Linked DNA regions of Homo sapiens. The protein of the gene in region 2 interacts with the protein of the main gene of each other region in a pairwise test. Each region holds a gene or a part of one and is shown on either strand. Other genes may lie near its edges. The genes, in order: CWF19L2, BACH2 and ZNF774.

Region 1 (3,656 bases), on a different chromosome or scaffold from region 2:
TATTGGGAAAAAAAACCAAGATTTTGAATGGTATATGCATTGTAGAGCTATTTAACTTACATATATTAAATATATAAGTTATGTTTTTATAAAATTTTATACATTAAGTTAAATATATATATTACACATTTTCAAATACACTAAAAAATTTGGAAAGACACTACCAACACTGTTAACCTGGCAAATAGGATTAGGGTTGGAAGTGACATGAAAGGGAGATTTACTTTTTCATTTTATACTCACCTATGCTTCATATTCTTGTTTTATACTCTTCTGTCTATATTGTTTAAATTTTATACATATACATTTATTAAGATTACAAATGGCATGTTCTAAAAAATAATACTGGTGTAAATAACAAGAAAGGTAAAGATATATGAACAATACATACAAAGAAGTAAAAACTAATTCAACTAATTTTTCCAATCATGACCATTCACTTATAAGACAAAGATTATTTGTAACAACTAGGCATTCTTCAAGGTCCTGTCTTGGTCTCCTACTTTACAACCACTCTACATTCTCAGGAATCTTTTTTTTTGGATGATTCCTAGATTTTTCTTTCCCTCTCCAGCCAGTCACAGAATTCATAGAAAGCCTCAAACCCTCTGTACCATCAAATTAACACAGCGAACAAAGAATACTGTCTTCAAAGGAAAAATTACATGTATACATACATATATATACACACATATATAGCTTTTAGTGAGTGCTGTCTTCAAACCGAAAAATTATATACATACACAGCTTTTAGTGAGTGCCTGTATTATAGTGTATCTATCAGAAGCTTACAACTTAAATAAGACATACAAATATGCAGCAATCAGACAACCGGTTGGAATACTAATCGTGTGGTATTACTTTGCAGACATTTTGCTTAGCTACAGTCACAGAAGAAGGCCTACAGATCATCCAAATGCTAACCCAATCCTAATGATATCAGGAAATAAGAGCCTCATTCCCCTAGTGACTGGGAACTGGAAATAGTCTACCACCCAGGGCACCTGGAGTGAAGACTGGACAATTACATATGCATACAGCCTTAGACAATAATCCCTGCCATGTTTGTTTAGTCAATACAATTGGATTTCTCCTTCCACTTCCTGGGAGGAAAGCCCTGATGTGAACCAGAGTCCATTTGACTGGGGCTTAATCACTCAGTTCAGATTTTGCCAGCTCCCTCCCACCGAAAATTACACACTGAGTTTTATAATCCACTGCTTCAGATGGAGTCATTAACAAAAGTGATTTATCAGACTCACAACCCCAAACCACAGTGCTTTTATCTACTACAACCATGTGTTTCTATTATTTCCTAAAACCTCTTCCTTTAGTGTCCCACTCATTTGGTGCTATTTTTAAACATATTTTAATGATCATTCACGTGTAAGTTGTTACCCTTTGGACACTTTTTTTTCTGGCTATCTCCAACAGGGCCAGCAAATTTCTAAAGCAAATTTTCTTAGGTTTAGTCCCATTCAACCTGGGTTTCCTCATCTTCTAACCCAGCCCTACATAAATGCAACATATATTTTATATTTAAAACTCTAATATTATCTTTAAAATCTGTCAATTGCCCAAAGTGGATTATTTCTTTCTTTGTGCAAAATAACAACCATAATTCATGCTCCCCTCTGCAAGATCTCTGGCATGTATTTGTCACTTTATATTTGGGCCGTGGCAGCGTGTTTTCCTTTTGTCTCCTAGACTTCCTATAGACATGCAGTATTTATGATTATGATTATACTCAACAATAAGATAATTTCCTTAGAAAGTAATGGCATTGGTAACAAAATCTACCAAAATATCTCCTGCAGCACATACATTTAAAACATTAACTCATTCAGTTTTTTAAATTGCAAAGCAGCAACATATTTTGAACAAATATAGCTACTGCTTTCAGCTCTTAAAAAAAAAAAAACCTATGAAATAAAATGCAATCCATACCACAATACTGCCTGTTAAATCTGCATATCTTACCCCTTCTATCAATTTTAAGAAATGTGAGATCATAGTCACAGCTAATAACTGATGTTCTAAAAATACAGTTCTGTTCTTTGAACTCTCTGGATCTTAACTTATTAGGTTAAAAAATGATAAAATACCCAGCAAATGTAGACTTTGTATCCCGTAGATGTTCTTTTTTTGGAGGGTCATCTCTCAAGACTTCATCTTGTGATTTTTCTCTTGGGTCTTCTGGAACATGTTGGTGTTCATCAGTACTGGTTTCCGATGGCTTTTGATTTGAATGTTTCTTGTCTCCTCTCCCATCAGAGCGACTCCATGATGTTAATCTTTCTTCACTGTTCTTGGTGGGTTTTCTAAAACCACTACACAAAGAGCCCTGAGCTACCAATGCTGAAGATGAACTAAGTGGTTCAAATTTTCTGCCCTTGCTGTGAAATGACAGTTCTTCATCATCAGAGGGTCTCAAGAATTTAGCTCTCAAATTGCCAAAAGAAAACTCTTGATTTTGCCTTGGGTTAGATTCTCTTCTACACGTTTCTAAAGACCCAGGTCTCTTATCTTTTTCATCACCAATAAATTTTTCATTATTGCTATTTTTTGCAGTATCTGTTGTAGCATATCTATCCCTTGAACTGTTACCATATTTTACTAAGTCTGATTCTCTACTTTCTTGACAATTTTGTGCTTTATCTGAATATGTGGGTTTCCTCCACCGTTCCCGTCTATAATCTTCTTTCGTGGATGCAGCTTTTTCAGCATCTTCTAATTTTGACTGAAATATTTCCATTGACTACAAAGGAGAAAAATTAAACAAGATATCTAAAATTAGGAACGGCTCAGTGACTTGCACCCCACATGTCACTGTATGACTCACTGCCAAGTGGCACACTGAAAAGCCCACTAACGGGGTGAAAGAAGACCCATACAATCATCCTATACGGAAACGAATACTTTCTAAAAATGTGTAAACAATTAAAAATTATTAAATAACAAAAAGATTCCAAAAGGATAGCCAGTTACACCAAACACTCTGCACTAACACAAAGTATAACACAGAAAACAGTAGAGACAAACTTTGCAAAAAATACTTAATTCCTACTGGTTGTGAGATTCAAGAGGTTAAATTGCTAAAACAGATTCTCACCAAAAAAAAAAAAAAAAACAGAATAGTTCAAGAACAAGAAAGACTTGGAAATAAAAAATTGTGTGTCCCAAAAAGCTGCCAAGATACACCAAAAGGAAGAAAAGACAGTGCTGAAAACTAAATTAACCTGGGAATTCTCTATATTTTAGGAAAAGGTAGTAAATAAATGTAAGTTATAAGAAAAAAAGATACATGAACAATTGATTCTAGAAAATCTAATATGCATTTATTAGTACTTCCAGAAAGATGGAGCAAAGATGATGGGAATAGAGCATTAATTTTAAAAATATATAAGAAAATTTCCCCAGCCGATTTCTCAGAAGGACTCATCCAATAGCCTTGGGTGGGGGAGAAAGAAGAAAAACACAGAAAAAAACCCTAATACCTGAATCTCAAAACTCAAGGAAAAAAAAAAAAACCTTTACAAGGACTAGATCAGGGAAGGAGTGAATAAGTGTGAGCCTGTATATGGATAGGGGTAGATAAATAACAAATTATCCACAAAGGAAAGACAGACTTACAGCTGTTCATCCATAATAATAAG
Region 2 (3,656 bases):
ATTTCTTGGTTTTATTACCAGATGTTGATTGAAACCCATGGGAGTAGGGTCACATTAGCATGATACCCTGAGACACTGATGGTGTGGTCAGCTCTCCGAAGTCTTTAACGCCTGTACTCTGAGGAGACCCTCAGATCCCAGGGAGCTGTCGAGGGAGGAAGCAATATGCCCATTGGAGATGATTCCAGTGCTGCTGGAACCAGGACAGCCAGCTCAGTGCTGGGCAGATGGCAATGACAAAATCTCCCCTCCCAGGTGAAGAAATGTTTCTCGCGCAATTGTCCTTCCACGCCCTCTTCTCATGGTCCAGTTTCTAGCACAAATATGGGACACCTGGGATTCAGTTGTGATACGTCAATTAATTAGTTGTGTGATCTCAGGCAAGTCTTCATTCTGTCTGTCCCAAAGTTCTTGGAGGATCTAGGAGTCACAGGGCGATAACGCCTGCCCTACTTAGCTTACAGGGTTGCTATGAAGAATACAACTGGATGACAGGTGGAGAAAGTGCCTGGGAAAGTTTCAACTGCCTGATAGATACAAGGTATTATTATTTCTGTTTATTAGCCCTATCTATCTCTGTCACATGGTTTCGTCTTACAGACATGTGCTTTGGAATTCCAGACACTTACAATGTTCTAGACAACATAAAAACACTGTTTTAATTAGAAATATGGCTGATTTCTATGCTGCCCAGCAAGGTTTCTTTTTATTAAGCAGACCAATTACAGACACTTCTAAAAACTTGCCTGATTCACCAAACCACAAAAATGATTGTGAAAATTTTACATACAACATGTGTCTCAAAGTCAGCATTGGGGTGGGAAGAGTTAGAGTCAGATGGCTCTTCTATTCTGTACCATTTCCATGTTTTCTCTGGACTTTATCTCTCTCTTCCCTTCTCTCTCTCTCTCTCCCGCCCCCTGCCTGCCCCCAACACACTCTCTTACTCTCATACACTTTTATCTCTCTCAGTGTAAAACATGTTAATAAAGCAAGTCCAAAAATCCATACTTTTGACTGTGCAAAGAAACTCTCTGTGGTGCTTCTTTACTAAAATCTACAATTAAGTAGAAATGGTCCAGTTACAAAGCTGTCTTACTAAGAGGCTTACTACTTTGGAAAATGACTGTAATTTTCTATAATTTCCAACATCTAAAAACAAACCTATAAACCATAATGAGATAAACCATAACTACTCACACCCACTAGAGGGCACTAACAAAAAAGATGGGCAATAACAAGTGTTGGCGAGGATGCAGAGAAACTGGATCCTTGATACACTGCTGGTGGGAATTTGAAATGGTATAGCCACTTTGGAAACAGTCTAGTAGCTCCTCAAAAGGTTAAATACAAAGTTATATGATTTAGCAGTTCCACTCCTAGGAATATTATGGAAATAACTGAAAACATGTCTTAAAAACAACTTGTACTCAAATGCTCACAGCAGCATTATTTATAATAGCCCCAAAGTGGAAACAACCCACATGGCCCTCAACCAATGAACAACAAAATGTGGTATTAGTCAACAAAATGGATCAACATTATGGAATATTACTCAGGAATTAAAAGCAACAAAGTACTAATACATGACAATATACCTGGTGAGTACATCAATGGCAAGGGTAAACCTTCAAAGCATTATGCTAAAGTGAAAGGAGCTAGACACAGAAGGCCACATCTTGCAAGATTCTATTTATACAAATGCCCCAAACAAGTACATCTACAGAGATAGAAGGTAGATTACTGGTTGCCTGGGGCTGAGGGGAGTGGGCAATGAGGAGTAACTGCTAATAGGTACAGCATTTCCTTTTAGGGTGGTGAAAATGTTTTAGAATTACATAGTGGTGATGGTTGTACAACATTGTGGATATATCAACAACCACTGAATTGTTCATCTTAGTAGGGTGGATTTTATGATATGGGAATTATGTCTTAATTTAAAAAATAAACCTGTGCAAGATAGACATACATAAAATTCAAACATTACAGACATACATAGAAATGAAACTTTCCCTACACTCCTCTCCAACGGTGCTCCCAGTTTTTTCTTATTCTCTATGCTGATTTTATTTATATGGTGTGTATATTTAGGAAACAAACTAGGACCTTGTGCATACTGCTTTGTGATTTTCACTTATGTGACTTGTTCATTTTTTTTTACTGGAAGAGAAAAATTCCCAACCTGACTTCTTAAGGAATATAGCAAATCCAGAAGTCATAAAGAAAAAGACTTATACCTTGACTACATAAAACTAATATTTTTTTATATGGGAAAAGGTACAATAAATAAAGAAGCAGACTAAGGGAATATCTAAGCAACATTTATGAGAAAGGGTTAATATTCCTAATATTAGGGATTAAGATTCCTACATGTTGATTTAAAGTTAAACAATACAAAAGAAAAATAGGCAAAGAGGTAAACCAGCAATTCACAGGAAAGGAAATATAAATGTTCAATACACATAAAACAAGATGTCAGCCTCATTAGTAGTCACCATTTTTTTGCCCATCAAATTGGCAAAAATTAAAAAGACTGGTGACAACTAGTATGGGCAAGAATAGGGGAAATTGGACACTCTAAGTTGCTGATGAATATGTGAATTGCTACAACATTTTGGGTAGGTCATTAGGTAGTATTTAATAAATGGGCACAACCTTTAGCCCATCTTTGAAACTAACCCACAAAAATAAATGCACCACTACTAACAGTAGGGTCACAAAATGTTTATTGCAGCAATGTTTATCAGAGGGAAAAACTGAAAACAACTGAAATGTCTGGTGATAAGTGACAGCTGAATGAACTACGATTTACGAGAACGAGAGATATTGGAGAAACATGTCTTGGCCCTGTGTGATCGACCTACAGCCACGTGCATGGTAGACAGCTACGTGAAAAAAGGAAGCTGCTAACTCTACAACATAATGCCATTAAAATAAAACCCAAACCCATAGAGAGGTGAATATATATTTGTATATTGTTGTAGGCAAAGAGAAAGCCTGTTAAATTTGGTATGTTTGGGGCTGGGTATGCTGTGTTCTAGAATTTAAAAAAGAATGTCATTTTAAAAAGCTGATTATTGATAAAGGATAATACTGCGCTAATTTGATCTTTCTCGAAGCCAGGGAACAGTTAAAAAGGATGGGAGAAGCCAACGACTGTGAGATGGAAGGGCTGCTTAACACGGTATAACTACAACATCTTACAGAATACAAGGTATGTTAACACTTCACTTTTGGTCTAACGTTTTGGCTCCCTACGGGGTGGAGGAAGACAGATTGGGAAAACACACGCGAAGTATTACACTGGCGTCTGGCAAGGGGTGGAAACTCCTGTCTTGATTTCTGACTCTGGTGTCTCCGTGGGGTTCACTTGAAAGAGAAGGCACCTGGATCCCATATGAAAGCAGGGCAGGGCAGAATTAGCCCAATAGATGCTGGCTTCTTCTGGATCAGTTCAGGAAAACAAGTTTTGACTTGTGGAGAAGGATCTGCCTTGAGCACTATTACTGGGGATAATACTTCAACCAGGGTCAAAGTAACTCCCTAAAGCAGGTTATCAACTCCTCGAGCAGCAGTCATGGCAAGTCCCTGAGACAGTTCTTGGAAACCTAACCTCCTCTACTCTAGGAAAACTAAGATGTCAAATTGGGAAAAAC
Region 3 (3,656 bases), on a different chromosome or scaffold from region 2:
TGTAAACATAGGATGTGAGTCTGAGCCAATCACACAAGGCCTGAGCAAAATCCAAGCCCTACTCCCTGCCTAGGTATGGAAGAACACCTGGGGAGCTCTAACGTGTATTTGGTGTCATTAAAAAAGTGCAGCCATGGTACAGTGATAAAACACGGTGATTTCCCCAAAATGTTAAGAAAAAAAAGCCCTTTTCCTCCCATAAAGAAAAAAAACCAGACTCAGGTGACAGAAACTCTGAAGTAAATACAATAACCATTTCTGAAGGTACAAGGCTAAAGCTAAATATGGAGAGGATTTTATCAGAAACCAAGCCTCCATGACCTCACCCTTAGAAACAATGAAGGAAGTTAACTATAATGTTGGGCTTTAAAATTTTCCCAGAATGGCAGCAGTCAAAAAAGCCATGAGAAAAAGACAAACAGTTGTTAAGTAGCCTGTAAATATACGAAAAATGTTTAACCTCACTATAATCAAAGAAATTCCATTATAACAATGATACACTGAGGCAATATAGTGTAGAGGTAATGAGTGCAAACTCAAGAGTCACACTGCCTGGGTCTGAGTCATCATCCTGCCTCTTACAAGCTGTGTGGCCTTAAGAAAGTTACTTAAACTCTGTGTCTCAATGTCTTCATCAATAAAATAGGGATAAGAGGCCAGGCTCAGTGGCTCACACCTATAATCCCAGAACTTTGGGAGGCCGAGGCAGGCGGATTACGAGGTCAGGAGTTTGAGACCAGCCTGGCCAACATAGTGAAACCCCGTCTCTACTAAAAATTAGCCGGGCATGGTGGCACAGGCCTGTAGTCCCAGTTACTCGGGAGGCTGAGGCAGGAGAATCGCTTGAACCCAGGAGGCAGAGGTTATGGTGAATCGAGGTCACACCACTGCACTCCAGCCTGGACGACAGAGAGAGACTCCATCTCAAAAAAAAAAAAAAAAATTGGGATAAGAATAAGATCCATTGGCCAGGTGCAGTAGCTCACACCTGTAATCCCAGCACTTTGGGAGACCAAGGCAGTTGGATCACTTGTGAGGCCAGGAGTTTAAGAGCAGCCTGTCCAACATGGAGAAATCCTGTCTCTACTAAAAATACAAAAATTAGCCACGTGTGGTGGTGCACACCTGTAATCCCAGCTACTTGGGAGGCTGAGGCATGGGAATTGCTTGAGCCTGGGAGGCGGACGTTGCAGTGAGCTGAGATTGCACCACTGCATTCCAGCCTGGGCAACACATTGAGACTCCATCTCCAAAAAAAACTTCAATAAATGTTAACTATTATTGCTATTTTTCCCAGACTCTTTTTTTGTGTTTTGTGTGTGTGTTTGTTTGTTTTTGAGACAGGCTCTTGCTCTGTCACCCAGGCTGGAGAGCACTGGTACAATCACAGTTAACTGCATCCTCGAGCTCCTGGCTCAAGCGATTCTCTCACCTCAGCCTCCCAAGTAGCTGGGACCAGAGGCACAAGCCCCTACACCTGGTTAATGTAACTTTTTGTAGAGACAGGGTCTCATTATGTTGCCCAGGCTGGTCTGGAACTCCAGAGCTCAAGTGGTCCTCCTGCCTCAGCCTCCCAAAATGCTGGGATTATAGACATGAGCTGCCACACCCAGGCCCAGACTCTTTAAATTATAATACCCACTGTGAAAGGTAGAATATAAAGAAATGCGCACTTTCATATAATGTTTGTGGGAATAAATCAATTGATTCAATCTTCTTGGAAGGCATTTTGCAAAGTATTAAATACCTTAGAAATGTATCTGTTCTTTGACCCACCAATTCTAATTCTGAGAATTCTAAGAAAATGATAAAATTATACTTCAATAAAAAATACTTTTTAAAAAACGAGCTAAAAGATGTTTATCACAACCTGGTGAAAGTTTAGAAATGACCTAAATGTCCCACAACAAAGGAATAATTATATAGCTCACTGCAGCCTCGAACTCCTGTGCTGAAGGGATCCTCCTGCCTCAGCCTCCCAAGTAGCTCAGGCAATTGCTATTTTTATAGGTTAAAAAAAGGTCAGATATATGGTTCAATCTAATGTTTGACTTCATCAACAAAATAATATTGTATTCCATAAAACAAAATACTAGGTGGTTATTTTAAGTGATGTAAAGAAAGATATACTCACAATACAACATGGAAGAAAGAATGTACAGCTGAATATACAGCATAATCCCAATATTATTCTTTTGTGCTTCTTTTAAAATTGTATATATGCTTAGAAAAATGCTGGTAGGATAGTAACTCTTCATTGGTGGGATTAGGGATGATGTTTGTTTTCATTTTGCTTGACTTTTTATTGAATGAGTATACATTACTTGTATAATAGATGAAGTAGGCCAGGCGCAGTGGCTCACACCTCTAATCTCAGCACTTTGGGAGGCCAAGGCCAGCGGATCACTTGAGGTCAGGAGTTCAAGACCAGCCTGGCCAACATGGTGAAACCTCGACTCCACTAAAAATACAAAAATTAGAGCTGGGCCCACTCCTATAATCCCAGCACTTTGGGAGGCCGAAGTGAGCGGATCACTTGAGGTCAGTAGTTTGAGACCAGCCTGACCACATGGAGATAACCCATCTCTACTAAAAATACAAAAAATTATCCAGGAATCGCTTGAACCTAGGAGGCAGAGGTTGCAGTGAGCCGAGATCATGCCATGGCACTCCAGCCTGGGCGACACAGCGAGACTCTGCCACAAAAAAAAAAAAAGAAAGAAAGAAGTAAAGCAGGAGGAAGGGTAGCCATGATATTTGAGAAAGAGCATTGGAGGTGTTTTTGGTTTTTTTTATTTATTTTTTTTTTTTTGAGATGGAGTCTTGCTCTGTCGCCCAGGATGGAGTGCAGTGGCATGATCTTGGCTCACTGCAAGCTCCGCCTCCCAGTTCACGCTGTTCTCCTGCCTCAGCCTCCCGAGTAGCTGGGACTACAGGTGCCCACCACCATGCCTGGCTAATTTTTTGTATTTTTAGTAAGACGGGGTTTCACCATGTTAGCCAGGATGGTCTCGATCTCCTGACCTTGTGATCTCCCTGCCTTGGCCTCCCAAAGTGCTGGGATTACAGGCATGAGCCACCGCGCCCAGCCTTGTTTTTTTTTTTTTTTTTTTTTTTGAGACAGAGTCTTGCTCTATTGCCCAGGCTGGAGTGCAATGGCGTGGTCTCAGCTCACTGCAACCTCCACCTCCCAGGTTCAAGCAATTCTCCTGCCTCAACCTCCAAAGTAGCTGGGATTACAGGCGCCCGCTATCACACCCAGCTAATTTTTTTATTTTTAGTAGAGACAGGGTTTCATCATGTTGGCCAGGCTGGTCTCGAACTCCTGACCTTATGATCCGCCCACCTCAGCCTACCAAAGTGCTGGGATTACAGGCGTGAGCCACTGCCCCCAGCCTGTTTTTAAGTGACAGAAAAAATTACCTCCTTTTCCACAAAGACCTCAGAAGTCTCAGAAGTTAAGTGGCAGAGGTGAGAGTCCAACCCAGGCTGGAAAAGGGGGATAGTAATACATAAGTCAAAAAGTTATGATGAGATATTAAAAGGACAATAAATAGCAAAGACATTTGCAAACCATAAAATGCATAAGGAAGTAATTGTTTTTCTCCCAAGGAGGCAACAATTAATCTTACAGAGGTCTGGAGCTCTAAGATGCC

What was found.
Region 1: the proteins of BACH2 (region 2) and CWF19L2 interact in binary tests that used the Homo sapiens proteins (3 or more experiments, as listed by UniProt).
Region 3: the proteins of BACH2 (region 2) and ZNF774 interact in binary tests that used the Homo sapiens proteins (3 or more experiments, as listed by UniProt).

What each region holds. Positions count from the first base shown.
Region 1 is NC_000011.10:107,426,694-107,430,349, forward strand, and holds part of CWF19L2 (CWF19-like protein 2), read right to left. Parts: intron 2,759-3,656; coding exon 2,106-2,758; intron 1-2,105.
Region 2 is NC_000006.12:89,943,784-89,947,439, forward strand, and holds part of BACH2 (transcription regulator protein BACH2), read right to left. Parts: intron 1-3,656. UniProt on the Homo sapiens protein: Transcriptional regulator that acts as a repressor or activator. Binds to Maf recognition elements (MARE). Plays an important role in coordinating transcription activation and repression by MAFK.
Region 3 is NC_000015.10:90,355,184-90,358,839, reverse strand, and holds part of ZNF774 (zinc finger protein 774), read right to left. Parts: intron 1-3,656.